3 separate regions of the Homo sapiens genome follow, and all the other regions are linked to region 3. Evidence: fine-mapped expression QTL. A gene starts in region 3. Each other region holds a variant in brackets. All regions are shown on one strand. Distances are between the middles of the regions. Region 1 overlaps GPRC5D-AS1 (GPRC5D and HEBP1 antisense RNA 1). Region 2 holds the start of GPRC5D (G protein-coupled receptor class C group 5 member D). Region 3 holds the start of HEBP1 (heme binding protein 1).

Region 1 (4,201 bases), 32 kb after region 3:
TACAAACATTAGCCAAGTGTGGTGGCATGTGCCTGTAGTCCCAGCTACTCAGGAGTCTGAGGCACAAGAATCATTTGAACTCAGGAGGTGGAGGTTGCAGTAAGCCAAGATCGCACCACTGCACTCCAGCCTGGGTGACAAAGCGAGACTGTCTCAAAAAAAATAAATAATAAATAAATAAATAAATAAAGCTGCTGCCTCTGCAGATTAGCATATATAAGGATGTTTTCCCTCCTCCAGAAGCCATCTTCCCGAGGCATGAATATTCCTTGTATGTTTTGTGAGCCTCACCCAGTAAAATTTGTTCTGGATGTCCCACAGCACAACACCACATTCTCATGCTCATGTGAGTGTTTAAGGGCCCTGGGTGACTGTATATAAATACAGTGGAAGGCCTGGCTGAGCTCAGGGAGTTAGTTGGTCATCACTTGTTTAAGAAAGACCTCCTTAATTACATTTGGCTTCTCCACTCCTGAGTAATGTTACTTTGATCTTGAGCACAGTAATTAAAGTTTCATAGCATGCCGCATTGGTGGGTATATAGTTGATTGAATGCCATGGATCTTGCCTTTGAATTTATATTTCTAACTAGCTCTAGCCTTTTTCCTTAGAAGTAATTTTGTTTCTATAGCAACATTATTCTAGAGGAATTGGGGACAGACCCAAACAATATCCGCAAATTCAGAATCAAGAATCAAACCATGTAAGGTGGAAATGCCAGAATGGGCTGAAGGTATGGCAAAAATTTGTGTAGGCAATGAAGAGCTATTGCATAATCAAACTTCGGGTAAAAAGACCTCCTCTCTCCTTGGCAATGAATTAATTAGACCCTCATCAAAAAGTCTTTTTTTTTTTTTTTTTTTTTGAGATGGAGTCTCACTGAGTCGCCCAGGCTGGAGTGCAGTGGTGCGATCTCGGTTCACTGCAACCTCCACCTCGTCGGTTCAAACAATTCTCCTGCCTCAGCCTCCCGAGTAGCTGGGACTACAGGCGTGCACCACCACACCCAGCTAATTTTTTTGTATTTTTAGTAGAGATGGGGTTTCACTATGTTGGCCAGGCTGGTCTTGAGCTCCTGACCTCAAGTGATCTGCCCACCTCGGCCTCCCAAAGTGCTGGGATTACAGGCATGAGCCACCACGCCCAGCCAAAAAAGTCGTTTCAAGAGTGGGCTCAAACCCCAGCCTCTTCTCATATCCTGCCTCTTGCTCCCTTTTGGGTTCCTTACCCTCCAGCAGCACTGGAATTATTGCTGGTTCCCCTGGCAGCCTCCCCACCGCCCCTCCTTCATGCCTTCACTCACACTGCTCCCATACCTACAATCCCCAATCCCTTTAGAGTCCAGCTCAAACGTCTTTGAATTCTTCCTTGGTCTCTTCAGGAACACTCCTTTTTCTCTATGATTTATAATCCCCACCCCACACCCATAGCATAAAGGATGTGTGCACCATAGATGCTCAGTTGTATTAATGTAGATTGGCTGGAATTTTAAAAAAATAAGAGCTACTGATAGCTAATATTCATTGAGCATTCACCACGTCCCAGGAACTGTGCAAACTTGTTACATGGACTACCTTATGTATTCTACACAGCCCTATGAGGTGTTCACTAGCACTGTCATCTCTACCCCATGTACAGATGAACTGGGGCAGCTTTGGGAGGCTCATTAGCATGCTCCAGGCTACGCAGATGATCCGTGACAGAGTCAGAATTTGAGCCCATGCTCTTATCTGCTCTGCAGTACAACACTAAATGCTTAGTTCAATGGCTGGTTTCCCTGGCTGGCAAGAAAGGAAATAAGACAGGGTGTGAATCTACCAGTGAGTATGCTGGGTGGGTGTTCCCTCATCCCTGTATAATTTACTCCGTGGCTCAGCCAGAGTGGCAGTGAGATAATCCCTGTGTCCCTAGGGTATGTGCCACTGCCTGGAATTTAGATGAACAAACTCCATGAGATCAAAACTCCAGAAGCAGCATAGATACCCAGCAGCAACCTATTTGCCGCTTGTCAAATTAGCAGCCCTTGTTTTCTCTCATATAGTAAAACTCAGCTAAAAGAAATTCTTATGCCACCAATACAAACACAAGACTATTGCCCCTTCTTACATAATGTCTATGACATACTTCTGAATATATAATGTATGTTTGTGATCCTGTTGTCTCTGCTTACTTTTTAGAGCCCTTTCTTAGGGGCTAGCAGAT[T/C]GTGGATTCACACCAGGGTGTCTGCCGGTGTGAGCAGAATGTGTCTTATGAGGGGGGCCCTAAACTGGAGGCAGAGCCCAGCAAAGCCTCAACCATTCTAAGAATCAAAAGGAAGCTTCAGCACTTGGATGTATCTGCAAAGGCTCCACGGAGGAAGTGGACTTACGAGAGTTGATTTAATTATTAGGAGAAGAGGCTTCTCGGTCATTGGGGAACACTACCCTTGCCTCCTTCCCTCTCTCAGAGGATGAGGTGTCCCACCTTCCATCCAAAGCTCATTGTGTCGTCTGTGCTGGGGGCCAGGTCTCTCACTTGCTCAGGAATTTCATTCTACCATCTACTCTGTCCTTGTTATTTCAGTCTCTCCCTGGTCTCTGCCTCCTCCTTCTCAACACAAATTCATGCTCACATCTCTTTAATTAGAACAACAAAAAACATCTTCCTTCAATCTAATCTTGCTTTCCAGGTACATCTCAGCTCTCTCATTACCTCTATAAATTGTCTTACAAATGACTTTACACAGAGTGTTTACATCCTTCCCCCTCATTTCCTCCACTCATTGACATTTACTTTCTCTGAAACTGATCATCATGAAGTCCAGAATAGTTGGCCTTTATCAGGCTGAACAGCTTCTCTGTACTGTTCAATACTGAGACCTCTCCTTCTCCCTGGTATTCTTCCTCTGGTACCTGTGACCTGCCATTCTCCAGGTGCACCTGCCTCAGACTACCTCCCCACTTCTTTCATAAGCGCATCTCTCCATGCCCAGCCCTAAATGTTGGTGTCCCCAGGACAGGGTTCTCTACCCTCTACTGGCTGCATCATGTCATTGTGCCCACTCCCAACAGCAGGTCATCCATGACCATGAAAATCGTGCACATGGGTTCTGTGACCATCCATGACCTATTGACTCCTATTTATTTACAGCCCATCTCTCTTCTTAATTTTTTTCTTCATCTCATCTCCTTTCAAAATGTCACCCTCAGGTATGCGGAAATAAGAAATGGGTTCACTGCTGAGACATACACTGAACAATTCCTCATTGATACAAAAACGTAACAAAAATTCTGGGTTTTTTTCAGACGGAGTCTCACTCTGTCACGCAGGCCAGAGTGCAGTGGTGCAATCTAGGCTCACTGCAACCTCCGCCTCCTGGGTTCAAGTTAATCTCATGATTCTCGTGTCTCAGCCTCCCGAGTAGCTGGGATTACAGGCACGTGTGCCACCATACCTGGCTAATTTTTGTATTTTTAGTAGAGACGCGGCTTTACCGTGTTGGCCAGGCTGGTCTCGAACTCCTGGCATCAAGCAATCTGCCCGATTAGGCCCCCAAAATGCTGGGATTACAGGCGTCAGCCATTGCTCCTGACCTAAAATAAACATAACAAAAGTTGTAAAAGTGCCATTTGTAAGGGCTTCTAAGGAATGGATAAGATCCACCCTCTTTTTGGGGTCTTTTTCTAGTAGGAAGAGAGATAGGGTCAGGGAAATATTAATTTCTTCTTCAAGTTACACATACTTCACAGTGCATAAATCTCAACTGTTTAATTTACCAGCCCCAATTAGACGTGGTTTTCTTGAGTGCTGATATTTAGTATTATTTATTTTTGTAGCCTCAGTTCCCAGCTGTGTACCAGTATATAGTGAAAGCTTGGTGTATGATTGTGGGATGGATAAATGAATGAATGTGTTTCCCAATTCATGAAATTGCTGAAAGAAAGGTGAGGAATGAGGATGGAGAGGGGTGTCCTGACTGTGGCACCAGCCTGGTACCTGCTTAGGATGCCAACAGGAAGTTGGCACATGAAGAAAAGTACAAAAATGCAGAAATAAATCCAGATGTTCAAGATGCATATATCCAGTGACCTACTTGACATATTCATACAAGGAATTTGCAGATACCTCAAACAGCACGTCCAAAACTGAACTCTCACTGCACACTTTTCCACCCTCCTTTTCATGCCTCCATCTTCCCCATATCTCTAAATAACACTACCAT
Region 2 (4,167 bases), 48 kb after region 3:
TTTTGAACAGAACAGACCCCAAGTCTTGTATAGTTCCTGGTGGAAGGTGATCAGCGAGGTCTAGAATGATGAGGGAAGGCAGGAAGAGTCATAGAGGAGATAAGGTGAAGAAAATCCTACAGGGAGGGAATGAATTTGGGTCAAAAATAGGATAAATGGGAATCAAGCACAAGGCAGTTTCGGACAGGGACAGAGGTGAGCACTTGGGAACTTATTTTTTTTGTGAGCCAGTGGGAAAACCAAGGAGGCTAAACCATAGAGCCTGGAGATGTGAAGGAAGTACAGGTGGGTAAGAAAGGGAGAGCCAGATCACAAGCACCTTGAAACCAGACACTGGTTTGGGGTCTTCAGCAGTCCTCTGTCGAAATACATATATTCAGGGGCTGGGTGTGGTGGCTCACACCTGTAATCCCAGCCCTTTGGGAGGCAGAGGCAGGCAGATTACTTGAGGTCAAGAGTTCAAGACAAGCCTGGCCAACATGGTAAAACCCCGTCTCTACCAAAAATATAAAAAACTAGCCGGGCGTGGTGGCATGCACCTGTAATCCCAGCTACTCGGGAGGCCAAGGCAGGAGAATCACTTGAACCCAGGAAACGGAGGATGCAGTGAGCCGAGATCGCGCCACTGCACTCCAGCCTGGGCGACAGAGCGAGACTCCATCTCAAAAAAAAAAAAAAACAAACATATATTCAGGAAGAAAATCAAGGAGTAAATTGGAGGTGGCGGGGTGCGGTTGGTGGGTGTAGGCTGGACACTGTGCTGTGCTGTATTTTGTGTCACCATAGAAGAAAAGGAATATGGTATTCAAGTATCAGCCGGTGACCTTTAATTGTCAGTTCTTTATCTTGGGATAAATTCACAGACTGATTCACAGTTTTGCCTGCCACTGGCCATTTTAATGCCAGTAGTAGACAAAACCACCCTTCCTTATGGCCCAGTGAAACCTCATTACCTGTACTTTGTTGAATGGATGCTCTTTTGAATTAAAATCAAGATGTGGGGGCCGGGCAAGGTGGCTCATACCTGTAATCCCAGCACTTTGGGAGGCCAAGGCGGGCAGATCACGAGGTCAGGAGTCTGAGACCAGCTTGGCCAACATAGTGAAACCCCGTCTCTACTAAAAATACAAAATGTGGTGGCATGCGCCTGTAATCCCAGCTACTCGGGAGGCTGAGGCAGGAGAATTGCTTGAATCCGGGAGGCCAGAAGTTGCAATGAACCGAGATCGTGCCATTGCACTCCAGCTTGGGTGATGGAGCAAGACTCTATCTCAAAAAAAAAAAAAAAAAAAAAATCAAGATGTGAGAAAGTCTCCAGAGATGGCTTTTTAGGCAATAGGTCAGAAGAAGGACGAGGTATCCTGGTGTAAGTCACCTGAGGGCCTTGTGTAGCTTCCCTGAATGTGTTGCAATACACAGGGAGGAAGCCGTCTTTCCTAGATTTATACCCACTTTCAGATTTACACCCGCTCCCTAAGGCCAAGGTGCCTCTGGTCAGCAGTAGAATGAAAAAGAATTATTCTCACCAAGGAAATCTCTGTAGAAAAGTTGCTGTGAAACTGGAATAGGTGTGTCTTTCTGTCCTTCCGGTTCTTTTTATAGATACTGCAGGAACCTCAGTGAGAGCCTACGGTTCTTCCGCCCATTTGGGGAGAGATTAAAGAAGCTGAGGTTGGCTCTTTCTTACTCATTGGCAGTTACAACTTTGCCAGCACTACAGCCTAAGCTTCCAGAGTGGACACGGAGAAGGTAAGTTGGAATTGGGGGGCCATGTTCTCAGCTGTAAACCTGGGTCACTCCAGCCATCTGGTCTGGGGATAACTGAAGGGAAGTAGAGCTAAGGGGTATTCAATTGCAATTGATTTTTTTTTTTCAAATGAATATGTGGGATCTTTTTCCTAGGCTACCTCAGTCAAGACATGGACTTTCGTACTAAACTGTTCAAAAAGGTATTTAAAGAAAGGGACCATTTTGTACAATTCTTTGATGAACACACAATAGGTGTTTAACTACAACCTGCTGCATTGGATTGACTTGAATTAACTGAAAGAAGGAACAGTCATTAAAATTACTGGGAAATTTTATTCCCAGTAATTTATCTGCCTGTCTCCTTCAAGCAGTGCATCAGTGTCTAGAACGATCCAATGATCCATTAATGTTGGCAGTCCTTGTTCTGGAGTCTGATATAACTGAATTCCATCAATCATGCAAACATTCTCATACACCTCCTTTTATGAAAAAGATTTTGTATTAGCTTTCAAAGCCTTGGAAATTAGCATACACAAATGGACATATTATCAAGTGAAGCCTGTTCAGCTTTTCCCAGCAGGATGAAGCCAAGATAGTTTTGAAGGGTTTAGGTTGCCTTTCTCATTTCCTTTACTGACATCCTATATAAAACTGCTATAAATTTGGGGTAATATGTGTGATGGCATTTCCCATCCCCTTAGACTATGTTTGCATATATCTCTGAATTTCTTCCCCCAGGGAAGCTTAGCATTTAGATAAGTATCAGGAGTCAAACAAAATGTAACTCAGGCTCTTGACAGTGTCCTAGGAACAATTTTGGTAAGGACATTTATTTCATATGCCCAGGTGTCTTCATTTCAGAATGAGAGAAATTACAGTGCCCAGCATGGACCACCCAATAG[G/A]CATTCTTGTAGGTATTAGGTTGGTGCGAAAGCAGTTGCGGTTCTTGACGTTACTTTTTTTGTTTGTGTGTTTTTTGTTTTTCGGTTTTTGTTTTCAGACAGCGTCTCACTCTGTCGCCCAGGCTGGAGTGCAGTGGTGCGATCTTGGCTCACTGCAACCTCTGCCTCCTGGGTTCAAGCAATTCTCCTGCCTCAGCCTCCCAAGTAGTTGGGAATATAAGCGCATGCCATCATGCCCGGCTAATTTTTTATGTGTGTTTTTAGTAGAGATGGGGTTTCACCATGTTGGCCAGGCTGGTCTTGAACTCCTGACTTCAAGTGATCCACCCACCTTGGCCTCCTAAAGTGCTAGGATTACAAGCATGAGCCACTGTACCCTGCCTTGTTTTTTGCTTTTTGAGACAGAGTCTCACTCTGTCACCCAGGCTGGAGTACAGTGGGGCAATCTCGGCTCAATGTAAACTCTGTCTCCTGGGTTCAAGCGATTCTCCTGCCTCAGCCTCCCGAGTAGCTGAGATTACAAGTGTGCACCACCACACCCGGCTAATCTTTGTATTTTTAGTAGAGATGGGGTTTCACCATGTTGGCTAGGCTGGTCTTGAACTGCTGACCTCAAGTGATCGGCCCGCCTCAGCCTTCCAAAGTGCTGGGATAACAGGAGTGAGCCACCGCACCCAGCCTTCTTGCCATTACTTTTAATAGCAAAAAGCACAATTACTTTTGCACCAACCTAAGAGATGCAGAGTTGTCAATTTGTCTCATCCTTTTTCTGCAGGGCATCAGAAAACCATTCTGGTGAGGTCCACACCCATAAGTCACCATGTACAAGGACTGCATCGAGTCCACTGGAGACTATTTTCTTCTCTGTGACGCCGAGGGGCCATGGGGCATCATTCTGGAGTCCCTGGCCATACTTGGCATCGTGGTCACAATTCTGCTACTCTTAGCATTTCTCTTCCTCATGCGAAAGATCCAAGACTGCAGCCAGTGGAATGTCCTCCCCACCCAGCTCCTCTTCCTCCTGAGTGTCCTGGGGCTCTTCGGACTCGCTTTTGCCTTCATCATCGAGCTCAATCAACAAACTGCCCCCGTACGCTACTTTCTCTTTGGGGTTCTCTTTGCTCTCTGTTTCTCATGCCTCTTAGCTCATGCCTCCAATCTAGTGAAGCTGGTTCGGGGTTGTGTCTCCTTCTCCTGGACGACAATTCTGTGCATTGCTATTGGTTGCAGTCTGTTGCAAATCATTATTGCCACTGAGTATGTGACTCTCATCATGACCAGAGGTATGATGTTTGTGAATATGACACCCTGCCAGCTCAATGTGGACTTTGTTGTACTCCTGGTCTATGTCCTCTTCCTGATGGCCCTCACATTCTTCGTCTCCAAAGCCACCTTCTGTGGCCCGTGTGAGAACTGGAAGCAGCATGGAAGGCTCATCTTTATCACTGTGCTCTTCTCCATCATCATCTGGGTGGTGTGGATCTCCATGCTCCTGAGAGGCAACCCGCAGTTCCAG
Region 3 (4,201 bases):
AGACGTTACAGAAAAAGTGTCCAAAGATCCACTTGCCCCCGATGAGGTCGGTGACACTGATGAAGGGCATGACCGCCATGGCCACCGAGAGGTTGGCCAGCGCCATGGACACGATCAGGTAGTTGGAGGGCTGGCGGAGCTTCTTGACGAAGCACACGGAGATACCACCAGGCAGTTGCCCGCGATCGCAGAGAGATGAGCGTCAGGACAGAGCCGATCACAACTTTCTCGGCCCTTTCTTGATTTGCTCCCCGCGGCCGGAGGCATTGCCCGGGGTTGCGTCCCAGGTGGGCGCCGGGCTGGCCGTCACCTCGGGGGCCCCCGCTCAGCAGATGCGGCGTCCCGGAGACCGCGACCGGTTCGGCGCCACCGTCGGGGCTCAGGTCGGGCAGCCTGCCCCCCACCTCCGGCAGGAGGAAAGAGCAGAGGCGCCCGTAGAGGTCCGGGTGGCCGCTGCTGTTAACATCCATCACTGCGCCGCCGTGTGGCGCTGCCCAAGAAGCCGCCCCACCCCCCTCCCCACCCCCGCGGCCGCCACAGGCTCCGGCTTTCGGCCCCGGGGCTTCAACTCGCCGGTTCCCCTCCGCCCGGCCCAGCTTGAGGCCTGCACCGGCCGCTGGGCAGCGCCAGGCTCGGCCTCGGGGCCCCGCCTGTCCCAGATCCCCGGCCGCTGCGTGAAACGCGAGAGCGCTGCCGAGCGGGGACTCCCTGAGGGAGGGACCTCGGACCCCGACGGACGCCCGGGACGCGCGGGCTCTCGGGCGCTCCGGCGGGGCTCGGCCCGCGGCTCCACAGCCCGCTGCACCCGCGCGGCTCGGAGCAATGGAGGATCAGGCAGCGGCAGAAGCTTCCGTTTCCTCCTTTTTAAATGGCTCCAAAATATTTCTTGTCGGTGGTGTGGAGTAGAGATTTATTGGTAAAATACTTGACAGAAAGCAGGCACTCAGCTGAGTAAATGGTGACAAAATTGGTGAGAAGATTTTTGAACAGGAGTGAACGAGAAAAGCCATGCTTAGAAAAGTCACCTGGAAACTGTGATTTAGAGGGATGGTAGGAAAGAGTGGCAGCAGGAAAGTGGTTTGGATGCTCTTTCAATGGTCTAGAAGAGGTCATGGGGCGGGGGTAGAGGGACAGCTACCAAGACAGGGAGCCTGGCCGCCGCTGTACCAGCGGGATCGAGCCTTCGGGTAGAGGACCGGAGAAGCGTGAGCAACCCGGGGCTCGGAGGTTGGAGCCCAGGCACCTGAGAGAGGACGTTCCCCACCACCGCTGCCTAAAGCCACTCCAGGCGAGAATCGCTTTCCAGGGCCCCAGCGGATAGGTTAGACTCAGAATAAGAGAAGGGGTCTGCGGAGGGGGACGGCCTGAGGCCCGCGGCCGGGTTCCCTCCCCAGACACCCGCGGAAAGCCCGAAAGGAGGCGGAACACGGCCCAGCGGCTCGCCACGGCGGGCCCATCCCTTGCTTAGCCGCCTCGCACCCTCGCCTCACCGCACTGCTGCACTGCTGCACTGCTGCCCTGCTGCCCGCCCTTCGCATCACTGACCCGCCCTCTCTCCGCCCCCTCGCCTCGCCGCCCCGCCCTCTCTCTCCGCCCCTTCACCTCGCCGTCCCGCCCCCTTGCCTCACCGCCGGGCTGAATTGCCGCCCCGCCCTCTAGCCACGCCCTCTGGCCCCTGCCTCTAGCCCCGCCTCTCGCCTCGCCGCCTCGCCGTCCCGCCGCCTTGCCGCCCTGCCACCCTGCCGCCCTGCCGCCCTGCCGCCCTGCCGCCCTGCCGCCGGTGGTCGCTGCCCGTGGTGCTCCGTCGCCCCCGCCACCTCACGTCCTCCCGTGCGTCGGGAGCGTCTCGGCTACAACATGTTGGGCATGATCAAGAACTCGCTGTTCGGAAGCGTAGAGACGTGGCCTTGGCAGGTCCTAAGCAAAGGGGACAAGGTAGGCCCGCAGGGCTGCCGAGGACCTGAAGGATTGCTGCCTCCCACCCCCACCCTCGTCGGGGCTGCAGCGGGTGCTGAGGGGCAGGTGGGGCAGGAATGTGCTATCGAAGGTGCGTTCTGGTGTCTGTCGCGAGTGCGGCTCTCCACCGCCCAGCATTTGGACTGGGAAGGAAAGGAGTGAGAGGTCCCCCTGCAGCCGGTGGTGAGAGGAGGGGGGTAAACAGGAGAGACTGATCCAAGGAGAGAATCCCAACTTGGGGAGTTGGGCACTGCCTGTTGAATGCATTCTTTCGTTTAAAATATTCCAAACATTCCGAACAGTTTGATTTGTTGAGAGACACTCGGTTGCAGAAATGAGTGTCGCAAGAAACTCCCAAGTACTAGAGAACTGCGGATAGTAGCCCCCTTTATCCGCGATTTCAGTTACCTGTGGTCAGCTCTTGTCCATAACTATTAAATGGAAAATTCCAGAAATACAGAAGTCCTAAGTTTTAAGTTTCCGGCCATTCTGCGTAGCAGGATGAAATCTTGATTCCTGGGACCGGAATGCCCCTTTGTCCAAGGTCAGCCTCCTATCTCTAGTAGCCGCCCTTAGTCACTTAGTAGCTAGCTTGGTGATCGGATCGACCGTGGCGGTATTGAAGTAACCCTTATTTTACTTAGTAATGGCCCCAAAGTGCAAGCTTAGCAATGCTGGCATATTGTTATAATTGCTGTTATTTTATTATTGTTGTTCATCTCTTACTGTGCCTAATTGATAAAGTTAAACTATATCATAGGTATGTATGTATAGGAAAAAACGTAGTAGATACAGGGTTCAGTTTTGTCCACCGTTTCAGGTATCCACTGGGGGGCTTGGAAGGTATCTACTATAGATAAGGGGGACTACTGTGTAAAAGAACAAGATCTGTGCAGAATAGATATAAATGCGCTACGCAGGGAGCACAGAGGCAGTCAATTCTGCCAGGGGGCTATGATGGGGACCTCAGTGGAGTGTCCTGAGCTGGGGCCTCAGGGATGTGTAGGAGTGCACACAACAGAGAAGAGCATGCACAAAGGCCCAGAGCTGTACCATTGCTTTTGGCCAGTTAGATCCTCTGGAGTTGGGTACCTAGAATACAGAATGAGTGAGAAGAGCATAATTGCTGTCTTCCCCCAAATTTATATCAGTGCTAACATGGGCTAACTGGACTGCACCCCTGAAAACAAGGAGAGTGCTGCTAGATTATAATCTCCTGGTGGACAGGTAGTTTAAACAGTGCAGCTGTATACAGAGCTCCCAATACGATGCCTCATTTGTGAAAGGACTGTATTGCCTGGGGGCCAAGTTCTGATACCTAGTACAATGATCTTCATATCACGAAAGCCCTCAATTAGACTCTAATCTGAACTCTTTGACAACCAAAGACCTTTCACCTGTTCTTATCTCCGTTTCCCCAGCTCTATGTAGAATGAACAGTTTAGCCCTGATCAGAGGTCCCACATTTGAATACCTGCAGCAACCAGGCAGGTAATGGAAATGGATGAAGCTGGCTGTTTTAGGCTATAAGGCATAGTGGGGACTGAGGCAAATCAGAGAGTGAACTCAGGTCCCCATCTCTAAACGGCAGTTCCAGCCACTTGTTGCTATGCAGTGATATATGAAACAGTGTTGCCAAATTCTTAAGGAAAACCATACATCCAGATTCTTAGCGAAATCACCCAATTTAAAAATAATTCGACAAAAACTGTTTTTTGAGTGCTATGTGCCAGGCACTCTTCTAGGCAATGGGATAAAAGATTAAAACCAGCAAAATTCTCTGCCCTCATGGAACTTATGTTTTATTGGCTAATGAACAAATAAAATGTATCATGGATCAGATAGTGATCAGTGCTGTGAAGAAAAGCAAGCAGGGGAGTGAGGAATAGGGAGTATTAGGAGTGAGGCTGTGATTTTGAGTAGGGAAACTGACATAGTTGTGCATAGGCTGGACACAAATGCAATAAGGATGCCAGTTATTAATATCAGTCCTGCTGTGAGCATCCAAAGGACCCACCCAAGCCAACACAGAGAGCTGTCTATCCGCCTCCCTGGGCAATGAAAAAGGCACCTGATAAGGTCTGCAGCATCACTGGCCTCCCCATCAAGTAGTTGCCCTACTCAGAACCACAGCCTTTCTCCTAACAGCCCTGATGAAGGTTCCTGTGATTCTAACACTTTAAGAATCCATGTGTTCTTGCTTTTGTCATGGAATGGGGCTCACTTTGTCTTTTTGGATTAATGA

What was found. PIP is the estimated chance that this variant, and not a neighbour inherited with it, causes the effect.
Region 1: its variant is the best candidate, but not a certain one, in a credible set for the expression of HEBP1 in whole blood (TOPMed, PIP 0.83).
Region 2: its variant is the best candidate, but not a certain one, in a credible set for the expression of HEBP1 in whole blood (INTERVAL, PIP 0.54).

What each region holds. Positions count from the first base shown.
Region 1 is chr12:12,966,130-12,970,330 of GRCh38, reverse strand. All of the region lies in intron 1 of GPRC5D-AS1 (GPRC5D and HEBP1 antisense RNA 1), which reads right to left. Among named protein-coding and RNA genes, the nearest start is that of GPRC5D, 16 kb to the right of the region's middle. The variant T/C (reference allele first, on the strand shown) is at 2,203.
Region 2 is chr12:12,949,689-12,953,855 of GRCh38, reverse strand. It overlaps GPRC5D (G protein-coupled receptor class C group 5 member D), which reads left to right and starts at 1,686. Exons shown (of 4, transcript NM_018654.2): 1 at 1,686-1,749; 2 at 3,427-4,167. The coding sequence starts at 3,472. All of the region lies in intron 1 of GPRC5D-AS1 (GPRC5D and HEBP1 antisense RNA 1), which reads right to left. The variant G/A (reference allele first, on the strand shown) is at 2,652.
Region 3 is chr12:12,997,771-13,001,971 of GRCh38, reverse strand. HEBP1 (heme binding protein 1) reads left to right here and starts at 1,707. Exons shown (of 4, transcript NM_015987.5): 1 at 1,707-1,935. The coding sequence starts at 1,858. All of the region lies in intron 2 of GPRC5D-AS1 (GPRC5D and HEBP1 antisense RNA 1), which reads right to left. It also overlaps the pseudogene HTR7P1. RefSeq lists an enhancer at 1-188 and silencers at 613-762, 1,523-1,642, 1,693-1,842.